Homo sapiens: one gene and its partners. The protein of the gene in region 7 purifies or fractionates together with the protein of the main gene of each other region. This does not show direct contact. Each region holds a gene or a part of one and is shown on either strand. Other genes may lie near its edges.

Region 1 (3,250 bases), on a different chromosome or scaffold from region 7:
CCCAGGCTGGTCTTGAACTGGGCTCAAGTGATCCGCCCACCTTGGCCTCCCAAAGTGCTGAGATTACAGGTGTCAGCCGCTGTGCCCAGCCGAGAGGTCCTGTTTAAATGACGTGAGTGAGACCTGAGATGAACCAGTCAAGTGATCAGGTAGGGGAATATTTCAAGCCTAGAGGACTGTGTGAAGATGGGGAAGAGGTGATGTCTAGGGCTGGGGGCGGGCAGATCCTGCAAGGCCTTGTCAGCCATAGAGAGGAGTTTGGGTTTGAGTCCAAGTGCAATGGAGGGTCGCAGAAGGGTTTTGAGTAACAGATGGATCTCATCTGACTTGTGATCTAATTTCTCTGGCAGGTTTTTCTGGAGGGCTGGCAAGAAAGTTAGGAAAAACACTTAATGTGTTGTCATCCACATGAGGGGTCAGGAAGCTTAGACCACCAGTAGTAGCAGGGATGCAAAGAACACTCACAGTTTGGTTCATCACACCCCCCACTCCACCACAAGAGTGAGCTCTATTAGAACAGGGACCCCCGGCTCCCTTTGATGTGCATTGTGTTCTTGGCACCTAGAATGGGGCCTGCACTTAATAAGATGGATGAATAGTGGTATTTAATGAGAAGATACTTAATGAAAAGAAGAGGCAGTTTTGGAGGAAAAAAATCATAGGAGCTCAGATATTTCTTAAATGCTGCTTTCTATTTATCTTTTTGAGGTGGAGTTTCTCTCTGTGGCCCAGGCTCGCAGGCTGGAGAGCGGTGGCGCGATCTCGGCTAACTGCAGCCTCCACCTCCCGGGTTCAAGCGATTCCCCTGCCTCAGCCTCAGGAGTAGCTGGGACTACAAGCACCCGTCCCCCACGCCCGGCTAATTTTGTATTCTTAGTAGAGACGGGGTTTCTCCATGTTGGTCAGGCTGGTCTCAAACTCCTGACCTCAGGTCATCTGCCCGCCTCGGCCTCCCAAAATGCTGGGATTACCGGCGTGACCCACCGTACCTGGCCCTAACTGTCCTTTTATTTGTCTGTGTCCCCTAGTGCATTTTATTTGTCTGTGTCCAGCGCAGGGATGCATCGCCTCCCGTAGGCTTGGCACAATTAGTGGCCCAGAGTAGGTGCCTAGTAAAGATGGATTTATGCCACAGCACATTGTAGTGCTAAAAAGAGGGTTTTCTCTTTAGATGATCGGGCCACGTTTTGGTGTGACCACTAGGGGGAGACGTGGCACCGGCGAAGCGCTCGCCAGACCCATTTTTTCGCTCCTTGCGTCATCGCATAGGGCGGGGCTCGTACCTGACGCCCGGCTTCTGGGCCTGCTCTCGCCCTACTAGGGAAAGGGGTGGGGCTTGGCTTTCGGGCGTGGGCGGAAATTGCCGAGAATCCTCGGAAGCTTTGCGAAAACACAGCGCGCCGTCGGCCGCGCTGCGAACCGGAAGTAATCGAAGAAGCCCCGGAAGTTTCGAACTACCACCGGCGTGCGTTCGCAGGTAGATCGCGGTGCCAGTTGCCATGGAGCCGGCCGGGCCCTGTGGCTTCTGCCCGGCGGGGGAGGTCCAGCCAGCGCGTTACACCTGCCCTCGCTGTAATGCGCCCTACTGCTCGCTGCGCTGCTACCGGACGCATGGCACCTGCGCAGAAAACTTCTACCGTGACCAGGTGCTGGGAGAGCTCCGCGGTTGCAGCGCTCCTCCCAGCCGCCTAGCAAGCGCCCTACGCCGGCTGCGTCAGCAACGCGAGACCGAGGACGAGCCTGGGGAAGCAGGCCTCAGCTCCGGCCCGGCGCCCGGCGGCCTATCGGGACTCTGGGAGCGGCTGGCGCCGGGCGAAAAAGCTGCCTTCGAGCGGCTGCTGAGCCGCGGTGAGGCCGGGCGGCTGCTGCCTCCATGGCGGCCGTGGTGGTGGAACCGCGGAGCCGGACCGCAGCTTCTGGAGGAGCTGGATAATGCCCCGGGTAGTGACGCCGCGGAGCTGGAGCTCGCCCCTGCGAGGACCCCGCCGGATTCTGTGAAAGATGCCTCCGCCGCGGAGCCCGCGGCCGCCGAGCGGGTTCTTGGAGATGTCCCGGGGGCCTGCACGCCCGTCGTACCCACCCGCATCCCCGCGATAGTCAGCCTGAGCCGCGGCCCAGTCTCGCCGCTCGTGCGCTTCCAGCTGCCCAATGTGCTGTTCGCCTACGCGCATACTCTCGCCCTGTATCACGGCGGTGACGACGCGCTGCTCTCTGACTTCTGTGCCACACTGCTCGGCGTTTCCGGAGCCCTGGGTGCCCAGCAAGTCTTCGCCTCTGCGGAAGAAGCCCTGCAGGCGGCAGCCCACGTGCTGGAAGCAGGCGAGCACCCGCCGGGGCCCCTGGGCACACGAGGGGCTATGCACGAGGTCGCCCGCATCCTGCTGGGCGAGGGCCCGACCAACCAGAAAGGCTACACGCTGGCAGCACTGGGGGACCTGGCACAGACCCTGGGCCGTGCCCGGAAACAGGCCGTGGCTAGAGAAGAGCGAGATCATCTTTACCGGGCCCGGAAAAAGTGCCAGTTCCTCCTGGCCTGGACCAACGAAAATGAGGCGGCCCTCACACCCCTGGCCCTAGACTGCGCCAGGGCTCACCAAGCCCATGCTGTGGTAGCCGAGGAGGTGGCCGCCCTCACTGGGGAGCTGGAGCGGCTTTGGGGAGGCCCCGTGCCACCTGCCCCAAGAACTCTCATTGAGGAGCTCCCTAGCTGAACGGGTTACCCTGGTCATTAATAAAGCTGTGACTGGTCAGCCCTGTTGCTTGTTTCTGAGGGATAGCTATTGTCCCACCAGACCCCAGATTCCTGGGCCCACAAGCCACTGCTCAGCTTCTCCCTGATCAGTGCTGACCCAGCCAGTCCTAGGGGAGAGAAGTGCACCAAGGGTTCCCAGTGTTTATCCAAAGGAGGAAGAGCATCTCCGATTTTGGTCACTGGTTTCATTTTTTTCCTTGCTCTAAACCACCTCTTCTCTGAGGTTGTTCATCCTCAGGGCTGGGTGGGGTGCAAGCCCTTGAGTCCCAAGTGTGTCGAGGCTCCTGGTCCTGGGTGTGCTGGTGGATGAGTGGGCACATGCCCCCACCTGGGGTGGTGGAGCCGCTTCAGTAGATGTAGGGCATGATGCGGTAAGGCACACGCCGGCAGTACTCCTGCCAGGCCAGGCCGTACTTCTGCAGGCACTGCCGCTCATCCCGGGCCTCACGGTGCACCAGCAGCGCGGTGAAGTAGAGGAGGTAGAAGTAGGGCAGCAGG
Region 2 (4,074 bases), on a different chromosome or scaffold from region 7:
CTTCTCTGTACAGCCATGAGTATAATTTGAGAGACACCACACAAGAAACACACAGTTCCAAAAATATTCCCTGCTTTAGATTGTCACTAATATCTGAAAATTTCATTATTAGTCCTTTTGGATCACAAGCATAGGAAATAATAAGATGTATCATTCTCTGACTACCATGGACCAAGTTCTTTAAATATATCGTCCCTCAGCCATTCAACAAGTAGAATGGCACTACCAACCCCATTTCCTCTTCAGGAACCTGAGATTCAGAGGGATCGAGCAACTAACACCAGGTTGATGGAAAGTGATGACTATAAACCCAAGTGTTTCCAATATACTACAACCAGTTCATGTAGTCATCACTAGAAAGACAAAACCACAATCTCTGGTAGATAAAGCAAAAAACACTCCAAGGGATCATTGGGTTCTTTCTGACACCACAGCTCACAATTTATGAAGAAAGTGTCCTCTCTAGCTAAACCTGGATGAGGTGAAAGATAGAGCCAGGGCCAAGCTTGGTGGTTCATGCCAGTAATCCTGGCACTCTGGGAGGCCGAGGCAGTTGGATCACTTGAACTCAGGAGTCCAAGACCAGCCTGGGCAACATGTTGAAACCTCATCTCTACAAAAAATACAACAATCAGCCTGGCATGGTGTATTAGTCCGTTTTCACCCTGCTGATGAAGATATTCCCAAGACTGGGCAATTTACAAAAGAAAGAGGTTTAATTGGACTTACAGCACCACATGTCTGGGGAAGCCTCACAATCAAGGTGGAAGGCAAGGAGAAGTCACGTCTTACATGGATGGCAGCAGGCAAACAGAGAGAGCTAGTGCAGGGGAACTCCTCTTTTTTAAACCATCAGATCTCATGAGACTTATGCACTATCATGAGGACAGCATGGGAAAGACTTGCCCGCACGATTCAATTACCTCCCACCAGGTCCCTCCCACAACACATGGGAATTCAAACCATATCACGTGGCGGTGCACACCTGTAGTCCCAGCTACTTGCGGGGCTGAGGTAGGAGAATCGCTTGAGCCCAGGAGCTGGAGGTTGCAGTGAGCCAAGATCATGCTACTGTACTCCAGCCTGGTGACAGAGCAAGACTCCATCAAAAAAAAAAAAAAAAAAAAAAAAAAAAGAAGGAAGAAGAAAGAAAGACAGGAAAGAAAGGAAAGAAAAGAAAGAAAGAGAGAGAGAGAAAGAAAGAAAGAGAAAAAGAAAGAAAGAAAACAAACTTAGATTTGGTACTGTAGGAAGAACCTTGAACACACAGGGGTTGATGTGGGTGCTGGAGTGTCCAGCAGAAGGGAATGGTGCTATGTCACTGTGATAAAACCCTGAAAGGATCCTGAACCCATGTGTTGCCAACATCAGTTTAATCAAGGCTCAGGTTATCATTAAGACAACAAAAAACCTGTGCTTTCTTCTACTACATTCAAATTTGAAAGGCACTTCTACTCGGACACAACAGCACAGTCAGAAAAATGAAACAGACTCCCAAGATTGCTCCTTCAAAGCAGTAACATCAAAGCATCTAGAAATGGAATTGGAGAATGCCACAGAAATACGAGAAGACATTCTATAGCTTCTACTTGGGCTTTATAGAAATAAATGTTGTAAGTGGATAAAAAGGGATTTAAAAAAAAAAAAAACTTGCCCTTACCTGACTGAACCACCTGTATCACCTTCTGCCAAGTTCCCTGTGGGTAAGTGTAAAGAGAGCAGGAATAGTAGCCAACATCATCTTCAGAGGCATTCCGAAAGAAAAGAGTCATGTTATTGGAAGCCATCGTTGAATTCAAAAAGTAAACCCTCTCAGCATAGGGCTTCCTTATGACCATGCCATGAGTAGGGCTGAAAATGGCTATGGAATCCTGCTGGGTCCCGATCTTGAACCACTCCACCTGTGTTAAGATGCCCATTGATGGATACACACATTCTAGAGACATGTTCTCGGCAAAGGGAACTGATGTATGCCAAAGCACCTCTTCACATAGAGCTGAAATATACAACATCACATTAATTGTTAGCCTTGATGATGGAAACACCAAATCAATATCTTAAGCTTTTGAAGACCTAGTGCATTGAGATCACAGTAAAGGCTGACAGTTTCTGCCTTTGTCTAAAAAGGCGTCCTGCTGATAATTGGAAAATGTAACTTTTAGTTTTTCTGAACAAGTGAGAAATTATCCTAGCCAACTAAAGAGCACTGTAAATTCTGAATATGCCACACTGTACAAACAAAAACAGGAGCAAAACTTTTAAATGAAAATATAAAGATCATCTTTACCTCTGTATACATGAAGAAGAGCCAAAAGTAAAGTAGGATAATCCATCTCTGGAAACTGTTTGAAAGGCTGGTTCTATTAAAAAAAAAAATTGCTTTTTATAATGTGACATGCAGATCCCCAGCACAATGCAGTTTCCTTCCTCTCAGATGTTATCAGTCGTGTCTTCTTTTTCTGAAGTATGAACACAGGAAAAAGGCCTTAGCTTAAAAGACAGGTTTGCTCCTTTATGAGGATGGGCAGATTTGAGTTTCTTCTCTCTCGGGGAACCAGTCGGCTTATTTTCGGGCTTTCATTTTCTACAAGGAGTCATTCATTCAACAAACATGTGCTGCATGCATTCTCTGTGCCTAACTCAGCTGTAGGCAATGAGGATACAATAATACAAAAAAAAAAAAATATTGCCATGATAGAACTTACATTCTATGTGGAGGAGGCAGAAACTAAAATAAAGATGTAAAAATATAAATAATAAGTGAAAGGTGGTGCATGCATGGAGCAGAGAAGTCCTCACTGAGAGCATAAGATGAGGCAGAGGCTGAAGTGGGCGGAGGGAGCCTACGCCCAGCGCTGACAGCCCATCCTGTGGCCTTCCTTTCACCTCTTCCTCCTTGCTGATCTCAGACATTTGCTTTGATGAGGACCAAAAAACAGATCAAAAGCCCATCAGATACAAAAGTATGCTGGCCCAGGGCATATGCAGATCTACCATTATGAGAGATTTAACTTCTGATTTTGAAATAATTATAGAGTCACAGTAAGTCACAAAGAGAGTACAGACAGGTCCCTGTCCCCAGGTTCTGTCAGGGGTCATATCTTACATAATTATAGTACAATATCAAAACAGGATTCATTTTTCAGGTTCATCATTGCTCTCTTCTTTCTCTTATAAAATACAAGTTCCAATTCTTAAGAACTTGTTAGGTACAAGTTCCAATTCTTAAGAACTTGTTAGGAACATATCAGCATGTTAGTATAAAAAGTATACCCCTACAAAAAGAGGAATTGTATAAATGCATTTGACCCTGGTAAGACTGTCAAAATAGAAGATGAGTAAAAATTGGGAAAAGTAGGAGCAGAAACCACTGAAGACAATTTTATCTAATGCCGACCCTGAACTTTGTTTGTGACTCAGTCTCAAAGTGTATCAGCAAGTGTCGACTACTCAGCATGAATATCTAATGTGGGAACTTTCTCAGGGAACATAAAATCAACAATGCAATGATAATCAGAACAAAATTGTAATGTGTACATATAATCAAGCATGGTGTCACCTTGTGTTTATATGGCATTATATTTTCTAAAAGTTTTCACATCTATGATATTATTTGTGCCTCTAGTTGTTTTGTGATGTAGTCAAAAGAGGCATCTGTTATCTCTGTTTTGTAAATAAGTCAACCCAACAATTCCTCCAAATTGTACTGAGTTATGCTGGGTCCTCTGCTTAGTCCCTTGGAAATACAATCATAAAGAGGACACATCTCTGCTCTCAGGTTATGCATAATATAGTGGGTCATATTAATTTTAAAAGCAATTTATTGTAGCAAAACATGATCATCTCTATACAAGTCATTTGCTAAGTTTTATGAAAGCCAGAGAGAACAAATCATTCTAATAGATTGTGGAAAAGGTTTTATAGAAAAAGTGGGGGGAAAACAGAGGCGTGACAATGCGGGTGTTTCAGGAAATGGTGTGACTACAGTCTAGTGGGTGGGGAAGTGACCGAAAATGAGACTGAGTCTGGACTGAAAAGTGACCTGAGTGACACACATAAAGGAACTGAAACGTA
Region 3 (3,995 bases), on a different chromosome or scaffold from region 7:
CCACCTTCCCCCCGCCCTTTTTTTTTTTTTAATTCATTTAAAGAGACAGGGTCTTGGCCAGGTGTGGTGGTTCACGCCTGTAATCCCAGCACTTTGGGAGGTTGAGGCAGGTGGATTGCTTGAGCCCAGGAGTTCAAGACCAGCCTAGACAACATAGTGAGACCGCATCTCTACAAAATATCAAAAACATGAGGTGGGAGGATCACTTAAGCCAGGGAGGTTGAGGTGGCAATGAGCCTTGATTCCGCCACTGCACTCTAGCCTGGGTGATGGGAGTGAGACCCTGTCTCAATAAATAAATAAACAAATAAATAAATGCAAGACAAGGTCTTGCTCTGTAGCCCAGGCTGGAGTGCAGTGGCACAACCATAGCTCACTGCACCCTCGAACTTCTGGGCTCAAGTGATCCTCCTGCCTCAGCATTTCAAGTAGCTAGGACTATAGGTGCATACCACCACCCCCAGCTAAGTTTTTTATTTTTATTTTGTAGAGACAGGATCTTGCTATGTTGCCCAAGCTGGTCTCAAACTCCCGGCCTCAAGTGTTCTCCTAGCCTTGGCCTCCCAGAGTGCTGGGATTACAGGCACGAGCCACTGCGCCCGGCCTCCCTCCACCTTCTGATGATATTACAGGAGGCTCAGTGTGGCATGGCCTCGCAACACCTGCCTGTGCTTTGCTCATCTTCCGTTCAAACCACTAATCAGTCTCACAGCCTGCAGGCAATAGTAACCAGCCTGGATTGAATTATACTGTTGTTTTCATTGCATTTACTTTTTTACCATGACCTATTTATGGCAAGTGAAACTGCCTTTTCCCATTTTGATGACATAATGTTTCCTTTTAAAACAAGTTTAAGTGAATTTCCCACCTAAATCAGGCCCCTTGATTACAAACCACAGTTAAAACGATATGCTCTTCGAAGCATCATTTTGCTCAAGGGGATGAGCCCTAAAGGTAGGGCGCCTGGAGCTCTGAGTTCCAAACCCAACTCCGCCTCTTGTAACTGTGTTACTTCAGCCACTAATGGGAGCTGTGTCCTTCCCTGGAAAGAGGTCACAAGCAGGCAGCCAGTGTGCCCAGTTCGGTCTACAGGTGGGCTTTTACAATCTTATAATGAGTGCCATATTAAGAAATCAGGGCCGGGTGTGGTGGCTCACGCCTGTAATTCCAGCTACTTGGGAGGCTGAGGCAGAAAAATTGTTTGAACCTGAAAGGCGGAGGTTACAGTGAGCTCCTGAGCCTCTGCTGCGATTGTGGTGCCTACCCCGAGGGCTGCTGTGAGGACTGGACTGGAATTGGGTGCACATGTTTCCTAATCATTCTAGGACACAATTTCCCCCATCTGTAATCAAGAGAGGTGCGGTGGAGGTGCTCTACCTCCTGACTCTCTGAACCTTAGGAAATGGACTCCTCCAAGCTTCACCTTCCCTGTGCCCATCAGTAATCAGCTACCTTTCCACTAGGCCTCTTGGGCAGAGGCAGGACTTAGGCCCACAGGATGGGGAGCCAGGGAGAGTCTGAGTCAGGGACATCATATCGTGATTAGGAGTCTGTGTTGGAAAAATCATTTTGGGCGGAAGCATGGGTGGAAGGCCATCCGAGGGCTGAAACTGAAGATGGGAGAGAGCCTGAGGCTTATGTTGGGGATGAGGACGGAGAGGACAGGTGGGTTGGAGGAAGCAGATGAGAGTCCAAGGGGGACCTTCCATACCTTTTAGGAAATTGATCACTTTGCCCCATTTTCCGGCATCAAAGGGATGCAGCTTCTCCAGGCCCATGAAGGTGATGTTGTAGCGCGGCGAGTACACGATTGGCCAGCGTGTCTCTGGCACATGCTGGTACAGCTGGGTTGTGTGTAGCCTACCGTGTGGAAAAAGACAGACGCACAGCTGGGGCAGCCTCGGCAGAAAGCAGCTCCCTCCCGAGCCCGCCTGGACTGACCCACCAGCCATTGCCCAGCACCACTAGCCCCTCAGCCGCAGACAAGGGCCCCTCAACAACAGCTGCTTAAACTGGCTGCCTTTCCCGGAACCCAATTCCAATCCAGTCCTCACAGCAGCCCTGGGGGTAGGCACCACAATCGCACCAGAGGCTCAGAGAGCAGACCAGGTGTGCCCAAGGTCACAGTGCAGGTCTGTGGAGAAGCAGGCGTGCACTCAGGTGTGTCTGGCTGCAAGGCCTCCGCGCATCACCTCTGCACCGTAATAAATGCCCCCACAGCTGTGTGGCACAAGGCTTCGGCTGCAAAATGTGTGGCTGTTGTGAGGACTCAGAGAATGCAACTGAGGAGCTGAGCACAGTAAGCACTCAGAAACCCAAGTCGGGACCCAACCTGAGCCAGGGCGGGGGGCGGGGATCCCCTGACCCCGCTGCGCTGCTAACCCTTCCCATCACACCCTGGCAGTCGTCACCCAGAGACAGAAATCCGCCCCAGTGGCTGCCTCCGTGGGGGCGTCCGCGTAGCCAGGGGGCTGGGCAGCGCAGACGTCAGACCCGCGCACATCGCCCGACCGCTCCGGGTCCGGGCCCAGGCCCGCGGCCGGCGCGCGTCCCTCGGGCCACCGAGCAGGGGCGCGGGGCTGGCCTGGCGCGCCGGGAGGGCCTGGAAACACCCGTCCCGAGCGTCCCTCACCCCTCACCAGCAAATCTGGGCCCTTACCTGGCGCGCCCGCCCGGCCGTCCCCGCCCTCGCCCTAGCGCGCCCGCCCACCGGGACCCCTGGGAGCCCACCCCCGCCCTCGCCCCGCGGCACTCACATCCCGGGGCCGGCCCTCCCAAAGCTGGCCGCAGCTCCGCGACCGGGCGGGGCGGGGCGGGGCGCGGGTGGGGCCAGCCCAGGACACGCCCCCGGGCTTAGCCGCGTCCTCTGGGGGCAGAGCTCTGGCCGATTTGGCCCGCCCCGCCAGTGTTGCGACACAGAGAGCCTGCCCGCAGGAAGGCCACCCCCAACGCCCATCAAGCCCGAAGTCCCGCCTCCGCAGGCAAATACCCGGTGGAATCCCGCCTGGTTCGGAAGCTCCGCCCCCTGGCGGGAGGGCCAAGCGGGTTTCACCCCGGCCTCGCGGAAGGGGCGCGACCACCGTATGTCCTGTTCCTGCGCTTCCCAAGCTGGGTAGAAACGGCGAGAGGCTGGGGGTTAGAAACGACAGGTTCCCGGCGGGCTGTGCCGGGGCTTCGCTGTGTGACCTTGGGCTGGCGTCTGGGCTCTCTGGGCCCTTGTTTCCGCGAGTTAAACGTAGGGGCGGGGGAGTTTCTCTGGCCCTGCCGCCTGTGACCTAAGGAGCCCCGTGACCTCTCCGACCCGAGCCCACCCCCGGCCCAGTCTGCGAGCAGCTCCGGGACAAGCACTCCCGGCGAAGACATGTAGGCTCTCAGAGCCTGCGTTTCCCTCTGTAGAGCAGGCCTAGTTACTGTCTTCAGGGTGCACGCGTCTCCGTCCCCGACCCGCACCCTCACCGCCGGGGTAAGCTGAGCCAGGCCCAAGCGACAGCTGGGGTTGTCCGTGGGGCTGCAACCCAGGAGGAGGCCCCAACAATAGAGCCCCAGAGGACGGAGACAATGGGCCTCTCTGTCGGCCCAGCCGTCCCCGCCATCCAAACAGAAGCAGCTGACGGAGGACTGCCGGGCTGGGATCCCTGGGCTCCGCGGGGGCGGCTGTGTGCCAGGGCGGGGCACAAGGGAAGCGCACAGACGTTTGAAGAGGGGCCCCCGTGTGCCTGCCATGATTGCATGATGGCATCTGAGCCTCACAACCTAATCCTGAGAAAGGTGCCATAATCACCCCAACTTTATCTTGAGGGAACTGAGGTTCGGGCCTGGATTAAACCCAAACTCGGCCACCCGCCAGCATAGTGGCTTTGGGCAGGTTGCTTCAGCCTTCTGGTCCTTCATGTCTGCATCTGAAAATGAAGTACTGGGCCGGGTGCGGTGGCTCACGCCTGTAATCCCAGCACTTTGGGAGGCCGAGGCGGGTGAATCACCTGAGGTCAGGAGTT
Region 4 (3,500 bases), on a different chromosome or scaffold from region 7:
GGTTTCTCCATGTTGGTCAGGCTGGTCTTGAACTCCTGACCTCAGGTAATCTGCCTGTCTCGGCCTCCCAAAGTGCTGGGATTACAGGCATGAGCCACAGCACCCGGCCATTTAGCTCTTTTTATATGTTGAACATTAAGATAAAAAGATGAGTTTCTATTATAACTGGGGAGGCAGGTACTTAAAAAAAAAAAGAAACTAATAATTTATTTTCCTTTGACCTATTTGTACATGAAAAAAACTAGTTGTAGGCTGGGCATGGTGGCTCATGCCTGTAATCCCAGCACTTTGGGAGGCCGAGGCAGGTGGATAACGAGGTCAGGAGATCGAGATCATCCTGGCTAACACGGTGAAACCCCATCTCTACTAAAAAAAAAATACAAAAAATTAGTCGGGTGTGGTGGCTTGCGCCTGTAGTCCCAGCTACTCAGGAGGCTGAGGCAGGAGAATGGTGTCAACCAGGGAGGCGGAGCTTGCAGTGAGCCAAGATCACGCCACTGCACTCCAGCCTGGGCGACAGAGCGAGACTCCGTCTCAAGAAAAAAAAAACAAAAAACTAGTTGTAATTTATTGCCCATTGAGGACCAAGTAGAAATATAAGTAATGCCTGGCCGAGGTTGGGGATGAGGCAAATGGAGCAAAGCTATCTAATCAAAGTTTCTGCAGTGATTGAAATGTGCTGTATCTGTGCTATCCAATATGGTAGCTAGTAGCCACACTTGAACTGTAAGTAGTAAGACTGAGAAAATGAAGTTTTAAATTTGAGTTAACTTAAATTTAAATAGCCATGTGTACCTAGTGGCTACTGTTATCAGACAGCAAAGATCTAGATGATGCGATACTTTCCCACGGGCTTGGAATCCTGGATTGTAAGAGTGGGGCTCTTGTATTTGTGTTTTGACCAAGTTTGATAATTCTAAGTCTGAATACTGCTCTCAGAAATAATTTGAGTCTTTCATGCTTTCTTCTTCAGTTAGGAGCTCTTTTACCACACTGTTGCCCTTTTTTTTGAGACAGTCTGGCTGTGTTACCCAGGCTGGAATGCAGTGGTGTGATCTTGGCTCACTGCAGCCTCCGCCTCCCAGCTTCAAGCAATTCTCCTGTCTCAGCCTTCTGAGTAGCTGGGACTACAGGTGCACACCACCTCATCCAGCTAATTTTTGTGTTTTTAGTAGAGACGGTTTCACCACATTGGCCAGGCTGGTCTCGAACTCTTGGCCTAAAGTGGTCTGCCCACCTCAGTCTCCCAAAGTGCTTGGATTAGAGGCGTGAGCCTCCGCCCGCGCCCACCCCACCCTGTTGGCCTTGAGACACACTAGTCAGGCCCTTCCTTAGAGGACTGAAGTTTCTGCCGCCAGGCAGTCAGATCAGAATATTGGTTAATTTTAGGGCTGGGCATGGTGGCTCATGCCCGTAATCCCAGAGCTTTGGGAGTTCTGAGGTTAGGAGCTTGAGACCAGCCTGACCAACATAGTGAAACCCCATCTGTACTAAAAATATAAAGAATAAGCAAGGTGTCGTGGTGCATGCCTGTAATCTCAGCTACTCGGGAGGCTGAGGCATGAGAATCGCTTGAACCGGGGAGGCAAAGTTTGCAGTGAGCCGAGATCATGCTGCTGTACTCCATTCCAGCCTGGGTGACAGAGTGAGACTTAGTCTCAAAAAAAAAAAAAAAAAAAAGGAATATTGGTTAATTTTAGTTACATTCGATATCAGATGAAGGAAATGTTTAGAGGGCTCCAGATACACTCTGGGGGCAGAAACCTTAGGAGTGAGAACTAAGAACGTTGTGTCAATACAATGTATCTTCCAAATACAAATATGGAACTCTTGTTTAGGCAGGCCAACAGGAGGGAGCACCTTGCCTAGCTGAGGCTGGCTCAGAGAGTCCCAGCTTTGCTACTCTGTATCCTCACTGTCCTTCCAATCTTTACTAAGCTTAATTGCAGAGTACAGCATAGGGATGGGGAAACTGGATTGTCCCAGTTTTATCTGAACTATTGCTCAGACTAAAGGATGTTTGTTTTAAAGTGTTCCTTCTAGCTTCCCCTTTCTGAATTTTTATTGTTATGATCCTACTTATACTAGGAATTTTCTTCTCATTTCTCTTGTTTCTCAGACAACCTCATCAGCCTTGAAAGGTGCCATCCAGTTAGGCATTACCCACACTGTGGGGAGCCTGAGTACCAAACCAGAGCGTGATGTCCTCATGCAAGATTTCTACGTGGTTGAGAGTATCTTCTTTCCCAGGTACAGAGTTTAATGTTCAGGAGCATGTCCTGGAAATGTGGCCTTTTCAAATCAGCCCAGGGCAGTTTTAGGGGTTCAGGTCGGACAATTTAGACATGTGTCCATTTCTTAACCTGGTTACAATCAGGGCGATGTGGGACTAGAGAGTTCGGAGAGCAGATACTGTCCTCTAGATGCTTCCATTAGCCTCTGTCCTATGGATTGACCCGTAAAAAACAACCTAATGCATTGGATAGGAGGCAGTGTGATTTCTTCTTCTTCTTATGTCTTGCTGTCCATGCTGTGCCATTGTCTCACTAACTCATCTAAGAAGGGCTGTGATTATCTTAGGAGGAATGTATTCCCCCACTCCCCCCACCATGAGGTGACTCTGAGTGTCTTCGCAAGGTAGATTCTCTGGATGATAGGGACTGGCAAGTTATGGCTACCTCTGTTTAACCCCACAGTGAAGGGAGCAACCTGACCCCTGCTCATCACTACAATGACTTTCGTTTCAAGACCTATGCACCTGTTGCCTTCCGCTACTTCCGGGAGCTATTTGGTATCCGGCCCGATGATTACTTGGTAAGCATCTGGATATCAGGACACTGTGACTCCAGTATCAGAGGGATATTCCCAAAGGAAGGCCCCTTTTCTCCACAGTCTCGCTCTGGTTTTTATTTAGAAAAGAATTGCATCTGTAGTTGATTTTTGTGTTGGGCAAGGCCCTGATGTGTCTAAATCTCTTAGTTCTTCTCTGTTTGCCCCAGTATTCCCTCTGCAGTGAGCCGCTGATTGAACTCTGTAGCTCTGGAGCTAGTGGTTCCCTATTCTATGTGTCCAGCGACGATGAGTTCATTATTAAGACAGTCCAACATAAAGAGGCGGAATTTCTGCAGAAGCTGCTTCCAGGATACTACATGGTAAGGGAGAGAGAAGCACTGTCCACCTGTGCTGCTCACTTCTGGGCAAGGCTGGGGAGGCTGTCTTCAGCAGGGTAAAACAGTGTCAGCACTTCTATCTTAAGAGTGTAGTTCAGGCCAGGCACGGTGGCTCATGCCTGTAATCCCAGGACTTTGGGAGGCCGAGGCAAGAGGATCACAAGATCAGGAGATCAAGACCATCCTGGCCAACATGGTGAAACCTCGTCTTTACTAAAAATACAAAAAATTAGCCAGGCGTGGTAGCGGGCGCCTGTAGTCCCAGCTACTCAGGAGGCTGAGACAGGAGAATGGCGTGAATCTGGGAGGCGAAGTTTGCAGTGAGCCGAG
Region 5 (3,500 bases), on a different chromosome or scaffold from region 7:
TAAAAGAAAAAGCAAAAAACAAACAAAAAGAACAGAAAAAAGGAGTTTACTCTCTAGAGGGATAGGCAGTTACAATCCAACAAGTGAGCTGGCCCCAACCTACCTCTCTGGCCTTATCCCTCACTGCTCCACTTCCCCAGTTCTCCCAGCTCTAGCTCCACCTCTACTCATCGACTTTCTGTTCTTCTGGAGTGCCCTTCTCAACCCGGGATTCCCTCACACTTACCATTCCCTCTGCTTGATTTTCTTTTCTTCCACAGCTGATGCTTCACTCATCCTAAGCCCCGAAAGCTTTTTGCTTGGCATCTGGCTTCCAACAGTGACAGAGTAGCTTGGTCACGCCATCCTTCCATGGAAGCATTTTAATTTAGAAAGACATTTTCTTGGCCAGGCGCAGTGGCTCAAGCCTGTAATCCCAGCACTTTGGGAGGCCGAGGCAGGAGGATCACCTGAGGTCGGGAGTTCGAGACCAGCCTGACCAACATGGTGAAACCCCTGTCTCTACTAAAAATACAAAATTAGCTGGGCGTGGTGGCGCATGCCTGTAATCCCAGCTACTCAAGAGGCTGAGGCAGGAGAATTGCTTGAACCCAGGAGGCGGAGGTTGCAGTGAGCCGAGATTACTCCATTGCACTCCAGCCTGGGCAACAAGAGCGAAACTCCATCTCAAAAAAAAAAAAAAAAGAAAAAAGAAAGAAAGACATTTTCTTGAGGAAGCCTCTCCTGACCCCTAACCTTTATTTGGGCACCTCTTCCTCAGTGTTCCCAGGGAGCCCTGTACGTCCCCTACTTCATCACTCTGCAATGTCATGTCTATACATCTTTTATCCTCCTAGGCTGTGAGTTCCATGAGGGCAGGGATGGGGCCAGTCTTATCCCTAACTGAATCCTTAGCCCTTCATGCTATGCCTGGAACATTCTGCATTTACATGGTGACTGATTGAACACGTCCTGATGCTATTGGTACAACACAACTCTGTCTCCCCTACCTCCCTCACAAAATCCTGAGGCTAGAAGCTAGATTAATCTCTGTTATGGACGAAACTGTATCCCCCACCCTCAAATTCAGGTTGAAGCCCTAACCCTCAATGTGAGTATATTTAGAGACAGGGACTTCAAGGATATAATTAAGGTTAAATGTGGCCATAAGGATGAGGCCTGATCCAATAGGACCAGAATCCTTATAAGAGGAGGAGACACTAGGAGCACATGCACACAGGAAAAAAGGCCATGTGAGGACACAATGAGAAGGCAGCCATCTGCAAGCCAAGGAGAAAGGCCTCACCAGAATTCAATCCTGCTGGCACCTTGATATTGGATTCTCGCTTCCAGAACTGTGAGAAATAAATTTCTGTTGTTTATGCCACTCAACTGTGGCATTTTGTTACAGCAGTCTGAGCTGACTAAGATACTCCCACAGGGCTCCCTGTGCCCTCTCTGCTCCTCAGCTGAAAATGGAGCTCCCTGAGAAGAAGTCCTATTTCCTCCACAGCCCAGCTGAGCACAAGGCTGAGAACAAGGGAAGCATCTGAACGTAAGCCCCAAAAGGTATCTGCTTGGCATCTGGCTTCCAACAGTGACAGAGTAGCAGTGTCACATCACCCTTCCACAGAAAACAATTATAAACTTTGGACAACATATTTTAAATTATTTGAAGGCACTGGGAGAATGATCAAAAGCAGGTAGAAATTGAAAGAGAGGCTACCCTTGAAAGAGAAGAACTGTACTTGGTGAGATTTATACATCTGTAGCTTTTTGCCTAAGAATACATGCCAATCCCTATAAGGCATGGTTCAGAGTGACAGGGACAAAGTTCAGGGCTGGAAGAGCAGCCAGAAAGTTAAGACAAAACCATGAAAGGGAGGGAGCCACACAGGGGGTGAAACTCCCAAATCTGCAACTAAATATATGTTCAGATCCTTGGCTGGAGAACCCAGGGGGGGCCAGCAAAAAGTAACAACTGGAAATTGAAAGAACTGCATGGAGATTTCAACTACGGCTAATGCAGGGGAGATAGGAGTTTAGAGCTTAAATCTTGCCATATTAACAATATGCCAAGAAAAAAAAATACCCTTCTGAAGATCATAACAGAATCCAGAATCTCTATATCATTCATAATGTCCAGTGTTCAATCAAAAATCACTAGACATGCTAAGAAACAAGAAAATGTGACCTGTACTCAAGAAAAAAGCAATCTATAGAAACCAACACCAAGATGACCCAGTGTTGCAATTTAGCAGAGAGAAAATTTACAGCACTTAAAGGAAAATATCTGAATAAGGAATAAAGACAAGATCAATAGAGAAACAGAAACTAATAACAATGGCCAAATATATAGAATTTCAGTTTTGCAGGATGAAAAAGCATTGTGGAGATGGATGGTGGTGATGGTTGCACAGCAATATGAAAGTGCTTAATATCACTGAACTCTACATTTTAATGAGTAAGATGATGAGTTTTACATTACGTGTATCTAACCACTGTAAAAATGTTTCATAAAATTTAAAAAAACAGATGGAAATTCCAGATCTGACAAGAAATAAATGAAATAAAAAGTTCACTGTATAGGCTTAATAGCAAAAGATGGCAGAGAAAGAGTTTGTGAACTCAAAGTTAAATCAACAGAAACTATCCAATTTGAAGAAAATATTGAAGGAAAAAAAAAACCAAATGGAGCCCGGAAAATTGTTACAGTATCTAGCAGTGTAGTGACATGTAACTGGAGACAGAAAATGGGTCACAAAAAATATCTGAGGCCGGGGGTGTGGTGGTTCACCCCTGTAATCCCAGCACTTTGGGAGGCTGAGGCAGGCGGATCACAAGGTCAAGAGATCGAAACCATCCTGGCCAATGTGGTGAAACCCCGTCTCTACTAAAAATACAAAAATGAGCTGGGCGTGGTGGTGCATGCCTATAATCCCAGCTACTCAGGAGGCTGAGGCAGGAGAATCGCTTGAACCCGGGAGGCGGAGGTTGCAGTGAGTTGAGATCACGCCATTGCACTCCAGCCTAGGAAACAAGAGCAAAACTCCATCTCAAAAAGAAAAAAAAAAAAAAAAAAGACTATTGATATTGGGTTCTAAGATGGCTGAATAGGAACAGCTCCAGTCTACAGCTCCCAGCGAGAGAGATGCAGAAGATGGGTGATTTCTGCATTTCCAACTGAGGTACTGGGTTCGTATCACTGGGGCTTGTCATACAGTGGGTGCAGGACAGTGGGTGCAGCGCACCGAGTGTGAGCTGAAGCAGGGTGAGGCATCGCCTCACCCGGGAAGCAGAAAGGGTCAGGGAATTCCCTTTCATAGCCAAGCAAAGCTGTGACAGATGGCACCTGGAAAATCGGGCCACTCCCACCCTAATACCGTGCTTTTCCAATGGTCTTAGCAAATGGCACACCAGGAGATTATATCCCGCGCCTGGCTCAGAGGGTCCCACACCCACGGAGCCTCGCTCATTGCTAGCACAGCAGTCTGAGATCCAACTGCAAGGCGGCAGTGAGG
Region 6 (3,500 bases), on a different chromosome or scaffold from region 7:
AAAACTTCAACGAAAAAGTGTGTGTCAACACTGAAGACAGATTCCTCATTATTAGAGACCTTGATGAATGTGACTGTTCCCTCCTAATCCATGATATTCATCAAATGGCCACCATGTCCTACCTGTTCTAAATAGAGCGAGGCAATTTCCAGCATTCTTACACAGAAGATGCCATAGTACATTTGGCTTCCAGTGAATGTTCCACCAAAGACCACTTGAGACCGGGAAGAAGGAAATTAAGAAAGGTGTTCTGTTTATTGAATGGGTAATACTTCACTACGCACTGAGCTGGGTGCACTGCAAATCTTGGGGCATTCATTCTTATAACGATGATAATATGAGATAGGTTCAGCAAATATCCCGATTTTCCAGGCTAGGAAACAGCAATGATAAGGGGAGTGACTTGCCCAGCAGCACCCAGACAGGAAGTGATGGAGGGAGAATTGGTCATAGAGCCTAAGAGGAACATTGCAGGTGGGAAGAAGAGAAGCAGAGTAGGAGGTCTGGCTTGGACTTCTAGCCTTGCAGGGTAGGTGAGGGATCACAGACAATGTAGAGCCTCAGGAAATTTACTTGCCACCCCTCAAGAAGGTCTAGCGATCAGGTTCAGGCCAGATGAGGACAGAAGATAGAGGGGAACTGGTCTGGGAGGCCTGAATCCTGTGGGCTTCCAGAAAGTCCTTCTGAAGCTCCTTGTGAATAGCAAGTAAAGAGAAGGCTGCATGCTGGAGAAACTGGAAGAGGGAAGCCAGGATGCCTTGCTGACTCCTGACCCTTCCTCCCCACAGTACCTGCTAAGCTGCTCAACTCCTCTTGCTCCTTGGAGAAGACACTGCAGTGCAGCTGTTCCTTCCATGGGATTCCCACACCCTCTGTGCAGTGGTGGATGGGAGGAGTCCCCGTGGGTGTGGATGGCATGGATGGCAGCCTCCAAGTGACTTCCACCATGCTTGGCCCCTGGGCTAACAGCACCATCAGCCTAACTGAAGAGCCAGAAATGGGCATGAGACTTCTCTGTGAGGGGAAGAACCAAAACGGAACCCATGCTTTGAGCATCCTACTGATGTCAAGTGAGGGTGGAGGGGGCTCGGTGACTGGGTGAGGACAATAAGCGGGATGGGGACAGTCACTGGGGCTAGAGAATGGAGCAGAGTTTTGGCTCCGATGCCAAACTTCTCACATGCTCTCTGCTTCCAGGAAAGAGTTCTTTGGCTGCCCAGGCCTTCGTGAAAGGGCTGATCCAGGGTGCTATCTATGCGGGAATTGTAATTGCGCTGCTCTTCCTCTGCCTCCTCCCTCTCATGTGAGTACTAGGGTTAATATTCACCCGCAAGCCTACTACCGGGCAGGCCCTGGCTGCAGCCCTGGCACAGAGAGAGCAAAGACAGGACCCCTCCCCTCAAGGAGCTTAGGGTCTAAAGAGGGAAAGATGTACCAAACATGGTCACCACAATCCAGGGCCATGAGGACTATACAGAACCGTAAAACTGTGTCATAAAACAGACACTTTGAACACATTTTATAAAGGAGAAGACCAAGAAGGGACTTGGCAGCCCTGGAAAAGGCAGCAGCGAGTCCCCGGGGTGCTGTCTGTGGTGGGCCTGCAAGGGTTCAGTACTCGTTAGCTTGGTGGAAAGTATTAATAGTACAGGTTGAGTATCTAATCCAAAAATCCAAAATCCGAAATGCTCCAAAGTCCAAAAGTTCTCGAGGCACCGACATAATGCCACAAGTAGAAAATTCCACACCTGACCTCATGTGATAGTTCAATGCACACAAACTTTATTTCATGCACAAAATAATTTTAAATATTATATAAAATTACCTTCAGGCCATGTGTATAAGGTATATATGAAACATAAATGAATTTTGTTTTTATACTTGGCTCCTATCCCCAAGATATGTCATTATGTATAAACAAATATTCCAAAATCTAAAAAAAAAAAAAAAAATTGAAATCTGAAACACTTCTGGCCCCAGGCATTTCAGATAAGGGATATCTAACCTTTGTATGCAGACGCCCAGAGGCATGTTTGAGGCATTTCCAGTGTCTTTGTATAATGTCAGGTGCATTGAGAGTACCAGGTAATGGCTAAAAATGAGGTTGAAAGACATCCTTGGTGTTGGTTCACAGGGTGTTAAAACTTAGCTGCATGTATTAGCTAGAAGCATGGAGTGGGAAGGGGTGAGTTGCAGGAAGTCAGGCCAGAGAGACGGGCAGGGGAGCCTGTCCAGACAGCTTGGACTGAATCCTCATTTCGGAGCCATGGAAGAGTGCTAAGCTGTGAAGGAAAGCTTGAGCTTGGGGTGGGACACAGATTAGAGAGAGTGAGAGCCAGAAGGTCAGAGGCCAGGCAGGAAGCTGGTGCAGGGGACTAAGCAGGAAATAGAAGGCCTGACCTGGGGCAAGTGATGAGGGGCAGCCAGAGAGGTGGGACTTGGGCATGGCTGGCTATGGGGAGACAAAGATGAGGAGTGAGGTGTCAGGGCAAACTGAGGAGCTATTTTCAAAGTATAATCAACAGGACTTGAAGACCAGTAACAATCTCTCTGCCAGTTGCAAGGCCCTTTCTTAGCTGACCTCATCTGAGCCCCACAGCCTAATAAGCAGGGTATCCCCCTTATTCAGAGTGTGAAACTAATTCCCAGAGAGGATGTGTGGCTTGCCCTAGGTCATACAGCAAGCTGGTACTGTTGTTGAGGCTCTAAATCAGAAGTTCTGGTCAAGATAGAGCCCATTTGGGGATTCAGGGAGATGGAGAGCCAGAACCAATCCAAGGCTTATTTCCTTAGAGTGAAACATATCAGAAAGAAGCAGGCGAAGAAAGCTGCAGCGATCAGAGCAAAAAAGAGCTCTAAAGTCAGAGCAAGCCAAGAACTTGAGATGTCTCTGAAGCCTGAGGAACCAGGAAAACCCGTAGTCGCCACATTTTCTGAGAGCCGGATATTGGTATGTACCTATTGTGTCTGGAATCTAGTCTATCGGAATACTGATAATAAGACCCACAGGGAAAGGAGCACACAGTGTTTTGAAGGTGTTATCATCCTCAGTCTTGCAGGATACCTAATGCTAGAGTGTGCTTTCAGGTCATTTTATAAATAGGAAGCTAAGGCCCAGAGAGGAGAAGGATGAAAGTTAAGAGAAACAATTTAAAGAACAATTAAAATCAATTTACACGCACACACCATTACATTGAATCCCCACTGAAAAGGCAGTTGGGGAAAATCCTAATAGCAGTTGTAGCATCAGAGTGGAAACCAAGGATTTGGCCTCTGAGTGTATGGCCGGCAGCAGTCAGCTTGGTGTAGATGCCACAGGCCAAGTCAGCCTGAAGTGGTTAGAGATTAGGCCAAGCCCAGGTTACTCCTTCATTCACCCTGTACCCCACATCTTCAGCAGGGCTTGGAAGATACAGTGTCCGAGGTTGCTATGCCTCACTGTTATTTACCGTTTATGATTCTCCAGAATCAGAATTATCCTGCTGCCCTCCTAACACCCT
Region 7 (3,500 bases):
ATACAAAAATCTGAACAGATCTATAACTAGTAAGGAGATTGAATCAATAATCCAAAAGCTCCTAACAAAGAAAAGCTGGCTTCACCGGGGAATTCTTCCAAACATTTAAAGAATTTGACACCAATCCTCCTCAAAATCTTCCAAAAAAATAAAAGGGAGGGAATTCCCAAATTCCTTCTGAGGCCAGCATTACCCTAATACCAAAGCCAGACAAAGACAATATGAGAAAGCTGTAGATCAATATCCCTGATGAGTATCAATGCAGAAATCCTTAACAAAATATCAGCAATCTGAATTCAACAACACATTAAATAGATTATTCACCACGACCAAGCGAGATTTATTCCTGGGATGCAAGGATGGTTCAACACACGAAAATCAATGTACAGTTAATATCCCACATTAACAGAATGAAGGTCAAACAAGTGCATTACAGAGTGTCTCAAGAGCTGCCATGGCAAACAATAGGTAGAAGAACAGCCCAACCAACTCTTCTTCTCCCCACCCCAGATCTCAAGTTTCTTCAACTAGAGAACTCCAATTAAAGTAACTATTTTTGTCTATATTAGACTTTGATTTAAATTTCATCTTGAAGCAATGGGAACTACTGAAGGATATTAAGCAGGAGAGTGACACAATCAAATTTGTGTTTTACAAACATAACCAGCAACAGTGTTAGGAACTAGAAAGACAGGAACCAGAGAGGTAAGTTAGGAGGCTGTTGTTGTTTTCCAGATGTAGAGATAAAGAGGGTCTACACTGAAGCCAAATAGATGTAGAGAAGGGGTCATATTTTAGAAGCATTCAGGATTTAGCATCTGACTGAACATGGTGAAGTGAGGAACTGATTATGATTTTGAATTACTGACTAGCTTGGATAACTGGGTGGATGGCAATGCCATTAAACAAGATAAGAAAACAGTAAAAATGGTTTTCTAGAGGATGGATAAAGGGTTGGTTTTAGATGTGCTACACCAATGTGACAGTGTTCTTGCCAATAAATATCATATGTATTTCAATGAATAAGAGTTCAATAAAATTAACAGTAAGATATGTAGCAATTGTTGCCAAAAGATAACAGATACGCACTAAACTGAGAGTATCACAGTGATGTATACTTGTGATGTATACATGGGGGGTATATCTTGTGATGGTATCACAAGATGCCAGGCTCCTGATCCCAAATAAGACCTCACATAAGTCACTGTGTAAGGAGAGACTTGGTCACCTACCCATGATTTATTTTCATAAAACTATAAGAAATGATAGAACTGTAATGTGACCAGTTCCCCACCAGACTACTTAAGGGTATATGTCTGCTGCTTAAACTTCAAAGGCCAGCTGGCAAGCCAAAGCCATCATGCCTAGCAGAGGAGCAGGTCCTGAGAACCCAAACATTGCAGGGCATAGCTGGGAACATACCAAGGAAAACAGTGTCATTGCATATACGCAGTAGGCAAAGAGCCAAAAAATTAGCTTACTAGCAACTTAAATATGGGAGGTGGGGTGGATTTCTAGAGCTGTCCTGATGCTGCCCAGGAGTGTCTTGTCTGTAAGTCCTAATAAACTCATCTACTTGCCAAGATAGACCTGTCCGAGTCATTCTTTGGTCTCTCCGCTCCCTCCTAGTTTAATCCTGGGTTTTTCTCATAACAGGACAGAGTGCCATATTTTGCCAGAGGTCAGATCTCAAGCACCAACAACACAGGGAAGCAATGAAGAAACCTCAAAATGCTTGTAAGTGGCAAATATTAGTCATAAAGCCCAATTATTTATCTTTATAAGCTGGGCAGAGCCACTCAGATCCTCACCAAAATGGCTATATGAAACAAGGCAGCCTACCAAACACATCACCAAAATAAGGAATCCTGAGTAACAGCAAAAGGAACCATGATTAAAGCCAGATGCCTGAAACTATTTAGTATAGATACTTAGATACATTATGGCATAGTGTAGTAACTAAAGTTCAAAAGAATAGCCATGAGTTTAATAATGTTTAGTATATGCTAATTCCTAAGGCAAATTTAGAAAGTTTTCATTAATATGATTTTTTTTAAAAAAAAGCTTTAAGGCTAACTGAATATAGACAAGTATTACTCATCTAAAAAGTTTAGTGTATTAATCTCTTCCTGGCAACACTGAATGAAGCGTGGACTATTACACATCACTGTTGTCAGGATAACATTAAAAGTCACACTAATCCAAACAAGTAAAAGAGCCTTACCTTTCCCAGGTTTATATTTAAGATTGAAAGGCTGATTCTGCCAGATGTAGGGGACCAGCATAGGTGCAAACCGAGTGATTATTCTCTCAATGTACTTCTGAAGAATCTCTTTATGTTTATCTGAGTCCCTTGACTCATCTGGTATCAGGAACAGGCAGTACTCCACTGTGTCTTCCATCGTAGCAAGCTTCATGGTTTCTTCCATTCTTCTTTGAAAACTATGTTTAAAGTTCCAAAATATAAACCACATAGAACAATGCAGAAGTAACATCTGAACTCTTTTAGATGGTTCTATGAACACTGTTTTCTAAAATTTAGTTAGGCCGGGCACAGTGGTTCATGCATGTAATCCTATCACTTTGGGAGGCCGAGACAGGCAGATCACTGGAGGTCAGGAGTTTGAGACCAGCCTGGCCAACATGGTGAAACCCCGTCTCTACTAAAAATACAAAATACTAAAAATACAAAAATTAGCTGGGTGTGGTGGCATGCACCTGTGATCCTAGCTACTTGGGAGGCTAAAGCAGGAGAATCACTTGAACCTAGGAGGCAGAGGTTGCAATGAGCCGAGATCATGCCACTGCACTCCAGCTTGGGTGACAGAGCAAGACTCCAACTAAAAAAAAAAATAAATAAAAATAAAAAATAAAAAAATAAAATTTAGTCACATACCATCACCATGGTTTTGGCCTTAACCATACACCACCTACAGTAATATTTATTTAATTTTTTTAAACTTTATTTATTTATTTGAGATGGAGTTTCACTCTTGTTGCCCAGGCTGGAGTGCAGCGGCATGATCACAGCTCATTGCAACCTCCACCTCTTGGGCTCAAGCCATCCTCCCACCTCAGCCTCCCAAGTAGCTGGGACCACAGGTGCATGCCACCATGCCCAGCTAACTTTTTTTGTATTTTTAGTAGAGGCAAGGTTTTGCCATATTGCCCAGGCTGGCCTAGAACTTCTGAGCTCAAGCAGTTCTTCCACCTTGGTCTCCCAAAGTGCTGGGGTTATAGGCATCTGGCCTAATATTATTTTTAATGACCCTTTACACTTAAAACTTTATCTTTAAAATTACGTTAAAAGGAAACCTTGATATAATACAGTGAATAGAAATCTAGTATCACATTCCCCAATTAGTAAGTATGTAAGAATAAAATCTTTACTTTTTATATTTTTCCTATTTTGGAAGTGAAGAATGAAATTTTTAATGTTTGCCCTTGTACTAGCAGTGGTATGTGTAATATATTTCGAGAAACACTGCACTAACACCTAC

What was found.
Region 1: the proteins of ECD (region 7) and ZNHIT2 purify together in Homo sapiens (affinity purification with mass spectrometry; 4 studies listed by BioGRID and IntAct, with this or other methods). This does not show direct contact.
Region 2: the proteins of ECD (region 7) and CD226 purify together in Homo sapiens (co-immunoprecipitation; one large-scale study listed by IntAct). This does not show direct contact.
Region 3: the proteins of ECD (region 7) and HDAC11 purify together in Homo sapiens (co-immunoprecipitation; one large-scale study listed by IntAct). This does not show direct contact.
Region 4: the proteins of ECD (region 7) and PIP5K1A purify together in Homo sapiens (co-immunoprecipitation; one large-scale study listed by IntAct). This does not show direct contact.
Region 5: the proteins of ECD (region 7) and PACC1 purify together in Homo sapiens (co-immunoprecipitation; one large-scale study listed by IntAct). This does not show direct contact.
Region 6: the proteins of ECD (region 7) and SIGLECL1 purify together in Homo sapiens (co-immunoprecipitation; one large-scale study listed by IntAct). This does not show direct contact.

The regions. Positions count from the first base shown.
Region 1 is NC_000011.10:65,115,903-65,119,152, reverse strand, and holds ZNHIT2 (zinc finger HIT domain-containing protein 2), read left to right. Parts: upstream 1-1,451; 5' UTR 1,452-1,499; coding exon 1,500-2,711; 3' UTR 2,712-2,750; downstream 2,751-3,250. Other genes in the region: delta(14)-sterol reductase TM7SF2, read right to left, coding at 3,100-3,250. UniProt on the Homo sapiens protein: May act as a bridging factor mediating the interaction between the R2TP/Prefoldin-like (R2TP/PFDL) complex and U5 small nuclear ribonucleoprotein (U5 snRNP).
Region 2 is NC_000018.10:69,945,074-69,949,147, forward strand, and holds the start of CD226 (CD226 antigen isoform a precursor), read right to left. Parts: upstream 2,801-4,074; 5' UTR 2,334-2,800; coding exon 2,288-2,333; intron 1,997-2,287; coding exon 1,661-1,996; intron 1-1,660.
Region 3 is NC_000003.12:13,479,111-13,483,105, reverse strand, and holds the start of HDAC11 (histone deacetylase 11), read right to left. Parts: upstream 2,801-3,995; 5' UTR 2,759-2,800; coding exon 2,757-2,758; exon of another isoform or gene 2,660-2,756; intron 1,861-2,659; coding exon 1,712-1,860; intron 1-1,711. UniProt on the Homo sapiens protein: Responsible for the deacetylation of lysine residues on the N-terminal part of the core histones (H2A, H2B, H3 and H4).
Region 4 is NC_000001.11:151,229,552-151,233,051, forward strand, and holds part of PIP5K1A (phosphatidylinositol 4-phosphate 5-kinase type-1 alpha), read left to right. Parts: intron 1-2,119; coding exon 2,120-2,250; intron 2,251-2,696; coding exon 2,697-2,814; intron 2,815-2,999; coding exon 3,000-3,152; intron 3,153-3,500. UniProt on the Homo sapiens protein: Catalyzes the phosphorylation of phosphatidylinositol 4-phosphate (PtdIns(4)P/PI4P) to form phosphatidylinositol 4,5-bisphosphate (PtdIns(4,5)P2/PIP2), a lipid second messenger that regulates several cellular processes such as signal transduction, vesicle trafficking, actin cytoskeleton dynamics, cell adhesion, and cell motility.
Region 5 is NC_000001.11:212,387,387-212,390,886, forward strand, and holds part of PACC1 (proton-activated chloride channel), read right to left. Parts: intron 1-3,500. UniProt on the Homo sapiens protein: Chloride channel gated by pH that facilitates the entry of chloride ions into cells upon exposure to extracellular acidic pH. Involved in acidosis-induced cell death by mediating chloride influx and subsequent cell swelling.
Region 6 is NC_000019.10:51,264,580-51,268,079, forward strand, and holds part of SIGLECL1 (SIGLEC family-like protein 1), read left to right. Parts: intron 1-788; coding exon 789-1,070; intron 1,071-1,197; coding exon 1,198-1,303; intron 1,304-2,793; coding exon 2,794-2,950; intron 2,951-3,500.
Region 7 is NC_000010.11:73,161,509-73,165,008, forward strand, and holds part of ECD (protein ecdysoneless homolog), read right to left. Parts: intron 2,443-3,500; 5' UTR 2,430-2,442; coding exon 2,225-2,429; intron 1-2,224. UniProt on the Homo sapiens protein: Regulator of p53/TP53 stability and function. Inhibits MDM2-mediated degradation of p53/TP53 possibly by cooperating in part with TXNIP. May be involved transcriptional regulation. In vitro has intrinsic transactivation activity enhanced by EP300.